Linked DNA regions of Homo sapiens: region 1 is linked to region 2. A link means that fine-mapping ties the variant in region 2 to the expression of a gene that starts in the linked region. Tissue or cell type: subcutaneous fat. Region 2 holds a variant in brackets; the other region holds the start of a gene. All regions are shown on one strand. Distances are from middle to middle.

Region 1 (8,178 bases), 64 kb before region 2:
AATGCTTGTCAGCTTGTCAGCTGGATCTCAATCAGAACACTAATACCCTAGCCAACTTCTTACGGCAGGCACTATGCACTGGTTTTCAAAGCTGCCACTCTGTGTTAACACTCACCTGACTTCCTTCAGCCTCATTTTACAGAAGAGGAGCCTGGGGCTCAGAGAAGACAGGTGATTTATCCAAAGCCACACACATAACAGTCAGCAGACCTGGCCTTAAATACTTACGGGGTCTTTTCCAGAATACCATGCTGCATCCCCCCTCTATCCACTCACCTAGCAATCTTTTGTTTCTTAAACTATCAATATTTTCTCTTTTATTATAATTCATTTATCACATTTCAAAATCATACAAAAAGGAATACAGTTTAGTGAGGCGTAAGTGTCCCTTCCATCTCTGTCTCTCAGCCTGGTTAAGTTTCTCAACATAGCCTTGCAGAGATAGTTTAGGTATATGCAGTAATTTTGAGACAGGGTCTCACTGTTGCTCAGGCTGGAGTGCAATGGTGTGATCTCGGCTCACTGTAACCTGCTCCTCCTGGATTCAAGTGATTCTTGTGCTTCAGCCTCCCAAGTAGCTGGGATTATAGGCATGCACAACCACGCCCAGCTAATTTTTGTATTTTCAGTAGAGACAGGGTTTCACCACGTTGGCCAGGCTGGTCTTTAACTCCTGACCTTGTGTGATCTGCTCACCTCAGCCTCCTAAAGTGCTGGGATTACAGGTGTAAGCCACTGCACCCGGACTCCAAATATTCTTTAGGCCTCTTTTAGCTCCATGTTGCCTGTCTCAAGAACCAGGTCACATGGCCCAGAGCTGACTGGAGAAGGGTCAGCCGTCTCCCCTAGTCTCTTCCCCTGCACTGACCTATCCCTCTTCCCAAGCTCTTCCCAGGCCTGTAGGGGTGGGTGCCTTCTCTCCCTCTCTTTCCTTTCCTGCCCTAGGGGCCTACTTGAATCAGGGGAAGGGCTATCATGGGCACTGTTACACATTCCTCTCCAGGTGTAAGAGTGAGGTGGCCCTGATCCTGAGCAACAGTCCCTACTACCCACTCACCCCCATGACTCGGTTCCGCACATTGAAGAATCGGTTTTGTCGCTCTTTTTCTCGATTTCTTCTAGCCTCGATGGCTGCTGCTTCCTTGGTATCTGTTGACTGTTTTATGTTATACATCTGGAGCAAAAGGGAGGTGGAATGGCCCATCAGTGCCGACCACCGTCTTTGACTACACGCCACCCCCATTCCTTTCTCCCTATAATATTTCAGCAGTTATTGATTCCTACTGATTTTACTTCCTGATATATTTCGTATCTGTGCCCTCCATCTCTGCTGTCACCAGCTTAATTCAGGCCTCACAATCTGGTGTCAGGCAGTATCTCAGGAGCCCCACTGGGTTCTCTTGCTCCAACGTTACCCTCTCTGCACTGGATTTCTCTGCACTGGCTACCAGAGTGATCTTTGGGAAGCAAATCTGACCATGGCACTCCTCAGCGTAAAGCCTTTGAAAGCACCTTTAAAGCAATGGCTCCCCAGTGCTTATAAGGCCCAACCCCCTTTGCCAGATTTATAAGGTTCTTCATGATCTGACCCCTGCTCACCTTTCTAAGCCTCAAACACATCTACAACACTCCTTTTTCATTATACTCTATTCAGTTTTCCTTATTTCAGTAAGTGGCACCACCATTCACCAAGTTGCTCCGGTCAAAAACCTAGGAGACATCCTTTAATCCTTCCTTTCCCTCACTCCTTCTTCTTTCAAAATAACCCTTATCCAAGCCACCATTGCCAGCTTCCTGAATAACCACAACTGTCTCCATGTTGGTATTCCAGCTTCCTCTATTGACTCCTATAGCCCAATCACAGAAACCAGAAGCAGCTTTCTTTTCTGAAATATATGTCCCCCCACCCTTTTTTTTTTTTTTTTTTTTTTTTTTACTTTTATTACTTATTTTCTGGTCAAATGAAAGGCTAGAAAGCTAAATTTGCCTGTGTTCCTTCATATTTTGGGAAGCTCACTTTTGGCATGTAACCCAGCCAAAGCTGCAGCCAAAAAAACTTTAGCAAACATAAATCTGATCATGTCTCTCACCTGCTTAAATCCTCCACTAGCTTCCCACTATACTTAGAATCAGATCCAAACTCCTTACTGTGGGCTTTCAAGATCTAGTTCCTGCACACCTCTCCAATTTGTCTCAAACCACTGTCTCCCTTGCTTACAGTGCTCCAGGCAAGCTGATCAAGTCCTCCAACACAGTAATTGTTCCCACCCCGGGGCCTTTGTATGTGCTGTTCCTTTGTTTGGAGCGTGATTCTTTAATTCCTCCTATAGCTATTTGGATCTTTTTGGTGTTTTGTTTTGTTTTCCATTTTGTAACTGTGAAGTAGTTGAACATATATGCCCGGCTGATTTTTGTATTTTTAGTAGAGATGGGGTTTCACAGTGTTAGCCAGGATAGTCTCAATCTCCTGACCTTATGATCCACCCTCCTTGGCCTCCCAAAGTGCTGGGATTACAGGCATGAGCCACCACACCTGGCCCCATTTAATTTTTTTTAATATAGATGGGGTCTCACTATATTGCCCAAGCTAGTCTTGAACTCAAGCAATTCTCCTGCCTCGGCCTCCCAAAGTGCTGGTATTACAGGCATGAGCCATTGTGCCCGGCGTCACTTAGGTTTTTAATCCACTTGGAGTTGCATTTTGTGTATGGTGTGAGATAAGGATCCAATTTAATTTTCCCCCCAAGTGCCATCTCATCTTTTTTAAATTTAAAATTTTATTTTATTTTTGGCCGGGCGCGGTGGCTCACGCCTGTAATCCCAGCACTTTGGGAGGCCGAGGCAGGTGGATCAGGAGGTCAGGAGTTCAAGACCAGCCTGGCCAACATAGTGAAACCCTGTCTTTACTAAAAATACAAAAAAATTAGCCAGGCGTGGCAGTGGGCACCTGTAATCCTAGCTACTTGGAAGGCTGAGGCAGAGAATAAAATTTATTTTATTTTTAATTTGTTTTAGATGGGGTCTCTCTCTGTTGCCCAGGATGGAGTGTAGTGGTGCAATCATGGCTCACTGCAGCCTCAAACTCCTGGGCTCAAAGGATCTTCCTGCCCCAGCCTCCTGAGTAGCTGGGACTACAGGTGTGTGCCACCATGCCTGCCTAATTTTTAAAATTTTTTTGTAGAGATTGGGTTTTGCTATGTTACCCAGGCTCACCATCTCATCTTTTAAAAGGGAACAGTATTTCCCCATGGATTACATGAGATTGCTGTCTTTTAGCCATTTTATCCCCTCAGCCTGATTGTTTCTCCCAGCTGAACTTCATTTATGGCTCCCCTACTAGATTCCATCTACCAAGCTTCCTCCCTTTATTTATTTTTGAGACAGGGTATTGCTCTGTCACCTAGGCTGGAGTGAAGTGGTGCGGACACCACTCACTACAGCCTCAACCTCCCAGGCTCAAGTGATCCTCCTGCTTCGGCATCCTGGGTAGACCAGAGGTGAGAGCTGCCACACCCAGCTAATTTTTTAATTTTTAGTAGAGATAGGGTCTCACTATGTTGCCCAGGCTGGTCTTGAACTGCTGGTCTCAAGTGATCCTCCTGCCTTGGCCTGCCTCCCTCACGATGGGATTACAGTTGTCAGCCACCATGCCCAGCCACTTCCTCACTTTCCTGGACTTGTCCTAAGTCTTTAGGACTCTTTCTAGCCTTCGGACATAATTTAATAAATAGTTAAAGGAATAATTATGGCAACCACCAGATCCTTTCCATGTTTAAGTCTGAGAATGGCACCAACTTACCTACTGGTTTCACCTGCCATTACAGTATAAGGTCACTGAAGGGGAAGATTCAGCTGACATTTTAAGCTTCTTGGATTGCTAAGGCCCCTGCCTTATTAATGATAGAGAGCAGAGAGGGAAGAGAGGTAAGGTGGCATTGTGGTATAGAGCTGTGGGAATGGGATGGGGGAGAGGCATGGAGGCAGAGGTAGGTGGAGGTGGAGAGCGCTGGCTTAGGGACCCTGACTCCTGGGGGTTCACACAAAATACCTTTCTCAGTAAGGAATCCCGATTTTGAAGCTCTTAGGTTGGCTCTGCATGCAACTTTGTTCTTGGGTTACGGCGGCAGTTTCTGAACTCTGCTTGGTACAACAGGAGGGAGGCAGGGGATAGGGGTAGTATCTCAGGCCGTAGCCTTCCCCAGCCTGTATCCCTGTTGCCTGGGAGTAGCCCCAGTCCCATTCACAACCCGTCCGCCTTCGCAACCCGTCCCGCCACCAATCCCACCCCACCATTAGCAAAGTCTGAGCTCACCTAACACTGAATCCTCCCGTTGGCCCCTCCTTCCCGTCCAGCTCTCCGCTCCCCCCGGGTCCTTCCAATTCCCGACCCTGTCCTTGTCCTAGCCTTGAAAGCTGGCCAGGCTAAAGCCACAGCCGAGCTCCCACCTTCCTCTTGCCCTGAGGGGCATAATCCTGCTGTGACTTCTGTCTCAGCAAGCGTGAGCTCAGGTCTCCCCCGCCTCCTTGAACCTCAAGAACTGCTCTGACTCCGCCCAGCAACAACTCCTCCGGGGATCTGGTCCGCAGGAGCAAGTGTTTGTTGTTGCCATGCAACAAGAAAGGGGGGCGGAGGCACCACGCCAGTCGTCAGCTCGCTCCTCGTATACGCAACATCAGTCCCCGCCCCTGGTCCCACTCCTGCCGGAAGGCGAAAATCCCGTTAGGCCTGGACGTATTCTCGCGACATTTGCCGGTCGCCCGGCTTGCACTGCGGCGTTTCCCGCGCGGGCTACCTCAGTTCTCGGGCGTACGGCGCGGCCTGTCCTACTGCCGCCGGCGCCGCGGCCGTCATGGGGTTCCTGAAACTGATTGAGATTGAGAACTTTAAGTCGTACAAGGGTCGACAGATTATCGGACCATTTCAGAGGTTCACCGCCATCATTGGACCCAATGGCTCTGGTGAGATAAACCTGGCCGCGGCCCTGCGCACGTCCCGGCCTGGACCCCTTATCCGGTGCCGGAGTAGTACAACCCAGCCCATGTAACCTGAAACGTCGCGGACCCTTACGGGTTCCTTGCCCGTCCAGAGGGGGTTCTGCTCGAACCCACTCTCCCCGCGCGGGTGCTCTAACTCGAACCCCTTCCAGGTGTCACTTGCCGCTTCCTGCGCGGCCCCCGCCCCGGCCCAGTGGTACAGGCCGAGCTGCCAGTTACCCCGCCTACTTCCCCCTCCCGCCAAAGGAGTCGCGTCTGGAACCAGCTTCCCGCCAGCTCAGTCCTCCGCCGCGCGGCTCCCCGCCGGACCGGCCGGAGCCGGCTTCCCAGCCTTACTTGACCCCCTCCGGAGAATGTGGGGACGCTGGTAGCTCTCCCGTGGCCTTCGGTCCCAAACGGTGCACTTCTGTTTCAGCCCAGCGTCCTCTCTCGCCTCGCATTGGTACACTCCAACTCCTTTCTACTCTTCTCTGGAGGCGGCACTTTTGAATTTCAGACCCAGCGCTCCAGTCTTTAGAATGCTTGAGGTGTCGATCCCCACCCCCCACCGCTATGTCAGAGGTAGTTGCCTCGAACTCGCCCTTTTCCTACCACCGAAACCGTCAAAAGCCGAAATTAACTAATTTACCAAATTTGTTGAATGCTTATTGTTTATCAGGAGTTATTCAGTTGCAAGTTGTGGAAACAGCGGAGAATAGAATAAACCAACTCCATGCTCACAGGGAACTTATATTCCAGAGGGGAAAGAAGATAAGGAGAAAATAAGATGGTTTTAGGCTGTCATAAGTGCTATACAGGAAATGAGACAGGTGGATGTGATAAAGTGACTTAGGTGGTGTCTTTAGAAAGGGTGGTCAGGTAAAGCCTCTATTTTGTGTCTTCCCAACTCTAAACGATACACCGTGGATTCCTCTCACCTCAGATGTCCATTTGGAATCCTGCTGTATTCTTCCACCCCAGAGATGTTCTAGCTGAATGATATCCTAGCCTAAGAGGCTGCCCTTGCTGAAGTAGCACATACTGAGTACCTTTCCTGGAGACTGAGTGTCTCAACAGTGGCACTATTGACATTTCCAGCGAGATAATCCTTTGCTGTGGGATGTGCTCTGTGCATTGTAGGATGTTTAACAGCATCTCTGGCATCTACCTGCTAGATAACAGTAGCACCCCTGCTCCCCAGGCATGACAATCAAAACTGTCTCTAGACATTGCTAGATGTCACAGAGGGTGTGTGTGATTCCCCCAACCCCCCAACTTGTTTGAGAACCACTGGCCTGGAGGGCTAATGCTTGGTGTCCACCCAGTTTCCTCGGGTTTTAGTGTAGTGGCCCCTGTTGGAAGAGCTAGGATGTACCTCTTGGCATTCAGTCCCCTCAGCATTAGTAGATTTGTATTCCCAGCTGTTCTGAAAAGGGCTATGGCACTCCCCCACTTGCCCCCGTTCTTCAAGGCCCACCTCTACAAGCCATTCCTTTAGTCCCTTTGGTGAGTGAGTCTTCCTCTGTGGCATACCGTAGACACTTGGTACACGTTAATGTTTATTAAGTCCTATATTGATGGTGCATGTTTTTGTATCTTCATTGGCCTGTGAGTACCCTAAAGCAGACATTCCTTGAAACGTTTTACTGGTGTTCAGTCCATAATATATATTACAAAAATGTTTACCATATTGATTGTGATTAGAGAGGCTTGGGGTTGTGAGATGATGTTGTCCTCCCTGGAAATGATGGGAGAAGCCCAAAGGTTGGATATTGGTTCCTAAAAGGCTGACTCCTGGTCTGCATGATGTGCTAGTCCTGCTGTGATGAGGGAGACAGCTGAGTCCAGACTTAGGATAGGACTAATTAATTGAGTACCTACTCTGTGTGTCAAGTACTTTATTTATTGGGACCCTGTTTTTTCTTTTTCTTTTTCTTTTCTTTTTTTTTTTTTTTGAGACAGTCTTGCTCTGTTGTCCAGGCTGGAGTGCAGTGGCATGATGTTGGCTCACTGCAACCTCTGCCTCTTGGGTTCAAGTGATTCTCGTGCCTCAGCCTCCCAAGTAGCTGGGACTACAGGCGTGCGCCACCCCATCTGGCTAGTTCTTGTATTTTTAGTAGAGTTGGTGTTTCTCCCAGTTGGCCAGGCTGGTCTCAAACTCCTGGGCTCAAGTGATCTGCCTGCCTCAGCCTCCCAAAGTGCTGGGATTACAGGCATGAGCCACTGCACCCAGCCAAGGGACCCTTTACAATTAAATTCTCAAAATGACCCTAGGAGGAAAATGCCAATAGCTTCGTTTTATACATGAGGAGACTAAGGCACAGAGGTGTGATAACTTGTCCGTGGTTCTCAGAACCCATGCCTGTGCTCCTGCCACTCCAATAGAGAAGTATGTGCCGCACATATTTTTAGACCCGTGAATTGTGGTTTTTTTCATCTTTTTCCAGGTGAGGGAATGGAAGGTCAGCTAAGTGGTAGTGAAAGTAAGATTAGAACCTGGTCTGTTGGTTCTAAGCCCAAGTTTGCAAGCTTTTTTAGATGGAGTCTCACTCTGACGCCCACACTGGAGTGCAGTGGCATGACCTCGGCTCACTGCAACTTCTGCCTGCTGGGTTCAAGTGATTCTTTTCTTTTTTTTCTTTTTTTTTTTTTTGAGATGAAGTCTTTCTCTGTCGCCCAGGCTGGAGTGCAGTGGCGTGATCTCAGCTCACTGCAACCTCTGCCTCCCGGGTTCAAGCTATTCTCCTGCCTCAGCCTCCTGAGGAGCTGGGATTACAGGCGTGCACCACTATGCCCGGCCAGTTTTTGTATTTTTAGTAGAGACGGGGTTTCACCACGTTGTTCAGGCTGGTCTCAAACTCCTGACCCCGTGATCTGCCCACCTGGGCCTCCCAAAGTGCTGCGATTACAGGTGTGAGCCACCGCGCCTGGCCTATTTTTTTTTTTTTTGGAGTCAGGGTCTTGCTCTGTCACCAAGGCTGGCATACAGTGGCACAATCATGGCTCACTGCAGCCTCAACTTCTCGGGCTCAAGCAACCCTCCCATCTCAGCCTTCCCAGTAGTCAGGACAACTGGAGTGTGCCACCATGCCGAGCCAATTTTTGTATTTTTTGTAGAGATGGGATTTTGCCATGTTGTCCAGGCTGGTCTCAAACTCCCGAGGTCAAGTGATCCACCCACGTCTGCTTCCCAGAGTGCTGGGA
Region 2 (8,178 bases):
ACAGTGCTTCCTCCAACAGGAGTCCATAGCATTTCAAACCTGCATGTCTCCTGATGTGGTCCCAATGGGGTATCTTCTGTGAGCAAAGGCCTGAGAAAAAATATGCACACATACCTCTCAAAAACAAACAATTTTCACTTTGGCATTTTAGTCCCAACATGAATTGGGACTAAACATGAATCTAGTCCCAATTCATGTTTAGGATAAAAAATTAACTCAGTGGAAGCATAGTACTGTAAAGGACACCCAGATTATATCAGTACACAGAACATTTAACATTTTAATCATAGTGGATATTTGCTGAGTGCTTACTCTGTGGCAGGCACTTGAGTTACTTTCATTTCATAAACAAGGAAAATGAAGCTCCCGGGTGTCATTTGCCCAGGGTCACAGAGCTAATAAATGGCAGACAGGAAATTGCACCAGGACTGTCTAACCACAGTCAACCCATGTTAACTGCTGTACAGAGCTGTCCTGGTTTCCACCAGCCACATTCAGGTTAATAGTGATAGCACAATTTTCTCTAAGATCAGTAGGTGGATACCTGAGATACCTCAGTCTAAGTAAAGAGCGTATTCTGGTAAGTTTGCTTCCAAGATGAATTGCTATCCTTTGCTCTGGAGATAGAAAACTATTACCAGCTTTTATTTTTAAGATTTCTTTTTTCATAGAAACCATAACACTTTATTTTTTAATTTAAATTTAATTTTATTTATTTATTTTTGAGACAGAGTCTTGCTCTGTTGCTCAGGCTAGAGTGCAGTGGCGCAATCTTGGCTCACTGCAACCTCGGCCTCCTGGGTTCAAGCAATTCTCCTGCCTCAGTCTTTGGAGTAGCTGGGATTACAGATGTGTGTCACCATGCCTGGCTAAGTTTTGTATTTTTAATAGAGACAGGGTTTCACCATGTTGGCCAGGCTGGTCTCGAACTCCTGACCTCAGGTGATCCGCTCGCTTTGGCCTCCCAAAGTGCTGGGATTACAGGTGTGAGCGACCACACATGGCCTAATTTTTATTTTTTATCAAAGGAATATATATACATACTTAAAAAAATAAAACAGTGCTAAGAGATGCCTAATAAAATCCAACAATATCCTGTCCTACTCCTTCCCACTGCAAGTCCTGCTCCCTAGAGGCAACTACTTCCAAATCCCTTGTTCCTTGCCACCTCCCACTCAGAGGCTGAAGAACCAGATACTTTCTTAGCCTCCCTTGCAGCTAAGGATGACTACGTGACCTGGCTTTGGCCAGTGAGATGTTTGCTGCGGGCCTTCTGAAAAAGTATTTGCTTTTCTGAGCAGAGGCACAAATAGCTGATGTTGTCCCCTTCTTTCTTTCTGCTTTGAATATAGTCAAGCCGTCTGGAGCTGTGACAGCCATCTTGTGACCATGTGGGGATGAGCACGAGGAAGAAGACAACATGTGAAGGAAGAAAGTCAGAAAGAGCCCAATTTCTTGATGGCATCATTGAGCAGCTGAACCCATGCCACAGTTCCTGTTAACTTAAAAAAATAAATAAAGCCATATGTGTTTAAGCCACTATCAGTTGAGTTTTTTGTTACTTGTAGCTGAAATGATTTTTATTTGATGGACCGCCATGGTTCCTTGTCATATGCTTATATCATTCTTTCTTTCTTTCTTTCGAGACAGAGTCTCGCTGCAATGCCCAGGCTGGAGTGCAATGGCACGATCTCGGCTCACTAAAACCTCCACCTCCCAGGTTCAAGCATTTCTCCTGCCTCAGCCTCCTGAGCAGCTGGTATTACAGGCGCCTGCCACCACACCCAGCTAATTTTTGTATTTTTAGTAGACACAGGGTTTCACCATGTTGGCCAAGCTGGTCTCGAACTCCTGACCTCAAGTGATCCGCCCACCTCAGCCTCCCAAAGTGCTGGGATTACGGGCATGAGCCACCGTGCCTGGCCACCATTATTTCTTAACTTAGCAATCTGAGACATTATCTCTTGAGATCTTATGGTAGAACAGGATTTACCTCTTTTCTATCTCTTCCACACACACACCCTACTTTCCCTCCCTTCATTCTTCCAATATGTTTATATCCAAACTCCTAGTAAATCAGTAGTCACTACAGAGCCAAGAAGTATACTATAATTACCTTTTTTTTCATTTTTTTATATTCCTGATTTTAATAATTGCTTGGACTTTTTCCACATTGGAAATGTGCCTAATCTTAGTTTTTCCCATTTGTTTCATCCGTTCGTTCATAAATCTATTAGCATATTTCTTCACAAATGTTCAAACCTATCAGTCCATTGATTTTTTTTTTTTTTTTTTGAGACGGAGTCTTGCTCTGTCACCCAGTCTAGAGTGCAGTGGCGTGGATCTCGGCTCACTGCAAGCTCCGCCTGCCGGGTTCACACCATTCTCCTGCCTCAGCCTCCGGAGTAGCTGGGACTACAGGCACCCGCCAGCACGCCCGGCTAATTTTTTGTATTTTTTAGTAGATACGAGGTTTCACCGTGTTAGCCAGGATGGTCTCGATCTCCTGACCTCGTGATCCGCCCGCCTCGGCCTCCCAAAGTGCTGGGATTACAGGCGTGAGCCACCGCGCCCGGCCGATTTTTTTTTTTTAAGACAGAGTTTCGCTCTGTCCCCCAGGCTGGAGTGCAGTGGCGCAATCTTGGCTCACTGCAACCTCCACCTCCTGGGTTCAAGCGATTCTCATGCCCTAGCCTCCCCCAGGTAGCTGGGATTACAGGTGCCTGCCACCATGCCCGGCTAATTTTTGTATTTTTAGTAGAGACATGGTTTCACAATGTTGGCCAGGCTGCTTTCAAACTCCTGACCTCAGGTGATTTCCCTGCCTCGGCCTCCCAAAGTGCTGGGATTACAGGCGTGAGCCACCGTGCCCAGCCTGGCCCATTGATTTAAGAAGAACACAATAAAAAGTTGAGCCGGACATGGTGGCTCACACCTGTAATCATTGCACTTTGGGAGGCCAAGGTGGGAGAATCATTTGAGCCCAGGAGTTTGAGACCAGCCTGGGCAACACGGAGAAACCTGGTCTCTATTTTAAAAATAAATAAAAAGTTGATTGATTTGGAGCCCTGTGTAAGGGCAGGTGTTTGTCAAGTCCCATTAAAGTGACTGAGTAAGGACCTGTACAATCTGCTGGAGGACCCCTAAGTACCGAAAATAGAGGCCTTTGCTTTGGGACTGTTTGGTTTCTTTGGAGAACCCGCTGATATTTTGCTGGAGTGTAGAGACTTGTTGGCTGCTGTGATTTCTACCCATGAGCATGGGGGAGATAAGGAGGAAATTAACTGTTCCAACATTGAGTTGGGGGAGATTAACCGTTCCAACACACACTTTCAATTATGTTTGAGGCTTTATGTCTTGCTCCCACATCAGGATACCTTTACTGCACCTCTCCAGGATTTGGCAGGGTAGATGAGCTCTCTCCCGGTGGATCCCTTCCCACATGTGGACTCTGCTCATTCCTTCCCCTGCACTGCCTTCTCAGTTACCACCCCTCCCGCCCCCTTTCTGCTTGCCAGAAAGTTGTTGAAATCTCTCTCCCATTGATGGGAGCTCCTCCAGTTTTCTTTGGAGTTGTGAGTTTATACCCTTGATCTTTTTATTTTGTGGAGTCTTAGGAATTAGAGAAAACAAATGCATTCCACCTTCTTGAACGGCAGTACTATCTGAATTTTAACTGCTCCAGATTTTCTGGATACACCAAGTCTGTAGACCAACATTCGTGAACCATTGGCAATAGAAAAAGCCTGGGTTTGGGAATCTGATGGGTTTGGGTTTGAATTCTGACTCCTTTTTTTTTTTTTTTTTTTGAGACGGAGTTTTGCTCTTGTCGCCCAGGCTAGAGTGCAATGGTGTGATCTCGGCTCACTGCAACCTCCGCCTCCCAGGTTCAAGCGATTCTCCTGCCTCAGCCTCCCAAGTAGCTGGGATTACAGGCAACCGCCACTGCGCCCAACTAATTTTTTTTGTATTTTTAGTAGAGACGGGGTTTCACCATGTTGGCCAGGCTG[G/T]TCTCGAACTCCTGACCTCAGGTGATCCACCTGCCTCGGCCTCCCAAAGTGCTGGGATTACAGGCATGACCCACCGCGCCCGTCCGAATTCTGAGTCTTTGGACCTCCTTGCTCAATTCATATCCATGGGCCTCGATTTTCTTCTCTATAAAATAATGTTCCAGATAAAATATAGTCCCAGGTAGAATAGTCATGTCTACCTGATAGAGTGCTGGGAAGATTTCCTTAGATACTGTATGTAAAGCATCCAACACAGGGCTTGGTATACAGTAGGTGTCAAAAAAATAGGAGTGATCACTTTTTTTTTTTCTTTTTTTGAGACGGAGTCTCACTCTGTCACCCAGGCGGAGTGCAGTGGCTTTTTCTCAGTTCCCTGCAACCTCTGCCTCCCGGGTTCAAGAGATTCTCCTGCCTCAGCCTCCCGAGTAGCTGGGACTACAGGCGCGTGCCACCACGCCTGGCTAATTTTTTTGGAGTGATCGCTTTTTAATGGAAGCAAGTGGCAAATGTGATTGGAAAGATTTGAATCAGGGTTTTGGAGGGCCTGGAATGCCAGGACTTCTTCTTGTGACACTGAGAAACCTTGACCATCTTGTGAGAATCTATCAGATTGTTCCCTCAGTCTGGTCTGAGGAGGGAGCAAGAAGCCCTTGGCCCAGCAGCTCTTGGGTTAAAATCTTCGTCTGCATCTGAGTTATTTGTAACCCGTTGTCATGGCAACAAGTTTGGCAAGCAAGCCAGTGCTGCAAGCTCCTGACAGTGCGGAGGGGAGGGCAGTGGGAGAAGATGGAAGATTTGGAAGGGGGGTGGTCTGTGACCAGCGCCTCACTTTCCTCTGATTTGTCTGAAGCTTTCAGCTGGAGATGAGGGTGAGCGTCCTCTAGGGAGAATCATTGGACGTTGGAGACTCTCCTCCCCAATCTCCTAATATTTCAGATATGAAAATAGGGCCAGAGAGGTCCAGCAGCTGGCTCAAGGCCACACAGCAAGTCAGAGACAGGTCTAGACTTTTCTAAAAAGGACTTAGGGCCATGGAACTGAAGCATAACAAACCAGGAGGGGACCTTTGGAAATGTTTCGTCCACCTCCCCACCAACACACACATGCCTTTTTGTGTTGTTCATATGAGGAACCTGGACCCAGAGTGGTTCAGAACAGACTCAGCTTCACACAGCAATTCTGGTGGTGACTTGGGAACAAAACCCAGAGGACTCGGGCCTTGCAGACCTGGATATTTCCTGAGGAAGTGGCAGTCTAGGAGTCACAGTCCAGAGAAGCCCCTCTCTGCTAACTGCCAAGACAGGGCCTCCCAGAGTAGCATTGATTTGACTGCCTTGGCTTCTGACTGCCTTGGCCTTTGAGCTCCTCAAATCCAACATGCATGTGCCCAGGTCACATTTCCCCTTCCCTGCGCCCTCTTTTTTCTGCATGTATGTGTGTCCTCCTGCCTGTGGCATCGCTGTTGCCCAAATGGCAGCCCAGCCCCACCCCACCCTGGACCAAACAAACCTGCCACATGCTTCCCATCCATATTGCCTACAGGGCTAGGCATTTCTTGAACATTCTCTTATGTAATTCATTCCTCCCAATTATCATTCTCCATCTCCCAGTTTAGCAGGTGGAAACCTAAAGGACCAGAGAAAGATAGTGACTGGTCCAAAGTCACACAGTGAGTCTTAGCCCGAATCCCTCCTCCTCATAATGATCCTCCTCATTTTACATGTTTCTGCCCATTCTATCCCACACTGATTTCTCAGCCCTCAGAGTTCCTCTGGCACTTATCTTTGTCTTAATCACCCCCTTAAACTTGTGCAATTTCCTCTGTGTTCTCTGCCTTATGTGCAGCCTAAAATCCTCCTGTCTCCTCATAGCTGATTCCTCACCAAGTCCAGTTGAGTCTCTCCTTTCTGTACGTCAAATCTACCTTCTTTCCTCATCTTCTGCCACTATCCTGTTCCAGCCTCAACATCCCTCACATGAATGACCCCAAATCTACTCCCTGGCTTCCAGACTGGCCATTTTCAACCTAATACTTGGCACATCAGCAGTAAGAGGGCATTGATGCTAGTCAACACAACCTTTCCTTCTATGACACTCCATACCCCACAGGGTAAAGTCTAGCTGCTTGATAGGTCATTAAGGTCACATAAGTTCTGGCCCCTGCCAGACCTCTTGAGTCTCATCACCTGCCACTCTTGGCCTCACACCCTGTGCTCTGACCACTGAGCACATAACTATAAGTGCAACTAACTACAAGTGCTTCCTAGACTGCACCAGTTTTTTTTTCCCCCCAGGTGTCTTTGCAATGTCTTCTGCATGAAAGGCCTTTCACACTGACACCCAAACCCCATTAATTCAGCTGTTGAAGTGTCACTTTATTCACGCAGCCTATCTTTGTTCCCAAGTTGGATGAGATCCTGTCATCTGGGCTCCCACAGCGCCCCTCTGCTCCTGTACCGTGCAGAACTGTTGTCTGGGGCTCTCTCTCCTTTCAGATAGGAAGCTCCCTGAGGGCAGGAATTCTGTCTTCAGCAAAGCCCAGCACCTGGATGGTCCCAAAAGGAAGGGGCGGCGAATATGCATTGAAGGAATCCAGGAGCATGAATGGTTGGATGACGAATGAAATTTGTTTTCAGTTCTGTGATTGTGCACTCTAGCCCGAGGGCCTGCGTGACGTCACTTGTTGCCTAGCAACAGTTTTCCCTCCGCCCCGGGGCGTGGTTTATGGGGGCGTGGCTTGTGTCAGCTGACGCAGAGTAAGGTGGCCGAGGATCCCAAACCAGATAGGTCTTGAGCAGGGAGCCGTGGTAGAAGAGAAGTGCGGATAGAAAGTGAGGGCCTTATGAGGTAGGTGATATTATTTCCCCTCCCCCTTATAGGTAAGAAAACTGAGGCACAGGGAGACTTAGGTGACTTGTCAAAGCTACACAGCTAAGTACCGATGTGGTGGGCGCCCAACTCTGATCAACTCCGTCACTTTTCACATTGTGTCGTCCTCTCAGTATTCCCTTTGGACAACAGGGTAGTTAATGGCGAAGTCGTGCCTGGAACCTGGGTCTTAGAGAAATAGCTGTCAAGGTAGAAGAGAGAGAAGAAATTATATTTTGAGCACCTACTGTGACATTGTGCAGTGGATGGCCCAGAGCTAGAATGCCAGGCCAGATGGGGCACTTTTTATGTATTAAAAAAAAAAAAAAAAAAAAAAAAGGCTGGGCAGGGTGGCTCACACCTGTAATCCCAGTGCTTTGGGAGGCCTAGGCGAGTGGATTACTTGAAGACAGGAGCTTGAGACCAGCCTGGACAATATATTGTGACCCCGTCTGTAAAATAACAACAACAAAAATTATCCAGGTGTGGTGGCACACGCCTGTAGTCCCAACTACTTGGGAGGCCAAGGTGGGAGGACCACTTGAGCCTGGGAAGTGGAGGCTGCAGTGAGCCAAGATCACACTACTGCACTCCAGCCTGGGTGACAGAGCAAGACTCTGTCTCAAAAAATTCTTAGGAACTCCTTAAAATATATACACATGTGCAAATGTTTCTGATGTTAGAAGCTAAATTCATTAAATACATTGAAATGTTTGTCTTTGGGTGTAAAGGGAGTAGAAATACAGGAGAAAAAATAAAATTAACAAACGAAAGGAATCAAGAGAGGAGCCTTGAACAAACTAATGATGACTTCTGTCCCACCGGAAGTAATGTGTTCATTGATGAAAATTTAGGGAAAGAAAAACGTCCTACCATCTAAATACAACCAATGTTAGTATCTTGGTGTATTTAGGCTTTTATCTAGGCTTAGAAAAACCGTATTTGGGATCATGCTGTATGTTCAATTACATACTGCCATTTTCACATAAACATTTCCCATTAAAATTTTTATAAACATCATTTAAATGGCCACAAAATACTCCTTTGAGTGGATATACTTACGGAATTCCTTTCTGCGTGGGTTTTGGCATTTATTTTATTTTTTTCTTGCTTTGTTTAGATTTGTTTGGCCAGGGTTTAGGTTTGATTTTCTCTATGTCTAATTTTAGGAGATAGCATAAAGAGAGATTGTTGTTTGAGAGAAGTAAGGGAAAGCACGGTAGGCTTTTGGGAAGCAATAGTATTTGAGGGGAATTTTGGAGTATGTAATGCACACATAAGATAAAACCTTCAAGTGACG

Which allele goes with the higher level. Positions count from the first base shown, and alleles are read on the strand shown. Sizes are in standard deviations (SD) of each study's normalised expression.
With allele G in place of T in region 2, the expression in subcutaneous fat of the gene that starts at base 4,578 in region 1 is higher (moderate effect, 0.60 SD a copy in FUSION).

Evidence for each region. PIP is the estimated chance that this variant, and not a neighbour inherited with it, causes the effect.
Region 1: RIBC1 starts here. The variant in region 2 is fine-mapped to the expression of RIBC1 in subcutaneous fat (FUSION, PIP 0.93).

What each region holds. Positions count from the first base shown.
Region 1 is chrX:53,419,273-53,427,450 of GRCh38, reverse strand. RIBC1 (RIB43A domain with coiled-coils 1) reads right to left here and starts at 4,578. Exons shown (of 8, transcript NM_001031745.5): 1 at 4,447-4,578; 2 at 4,049-4,137; 3 at 1,058-1,174. The coding sequence starts at 1,174. SMC1A (structural maintenance of chromosomes 1A) reads left to right here and starts at 4,797. Exons shown (of 25, transcript NM_006306.4): 1 at 4,797-4,959. The coding sequence starts at 4,851. RefSeq lists enhancers at 4,490-4,539, 3,694-4,665, 4,830-5,009, 5,200-5,249, 5,370-5,549 and 1 more.
Region 2 is chrX:53,354,884-53,363,061 of GRCh38, reverse strand. It overlaps LOC124905191 (a long non-coding RNA gene), which reads left to right. Exons shown (of 2, transcript XR_007068243.1): 2 at 1,353-1,539. Among named protein-coding and RNA genes, the nearest start is that of IQSEC2, 38 kb to the right of the region's middle. The variant G/T (reference allele first, on the strand shown) is at 4,011.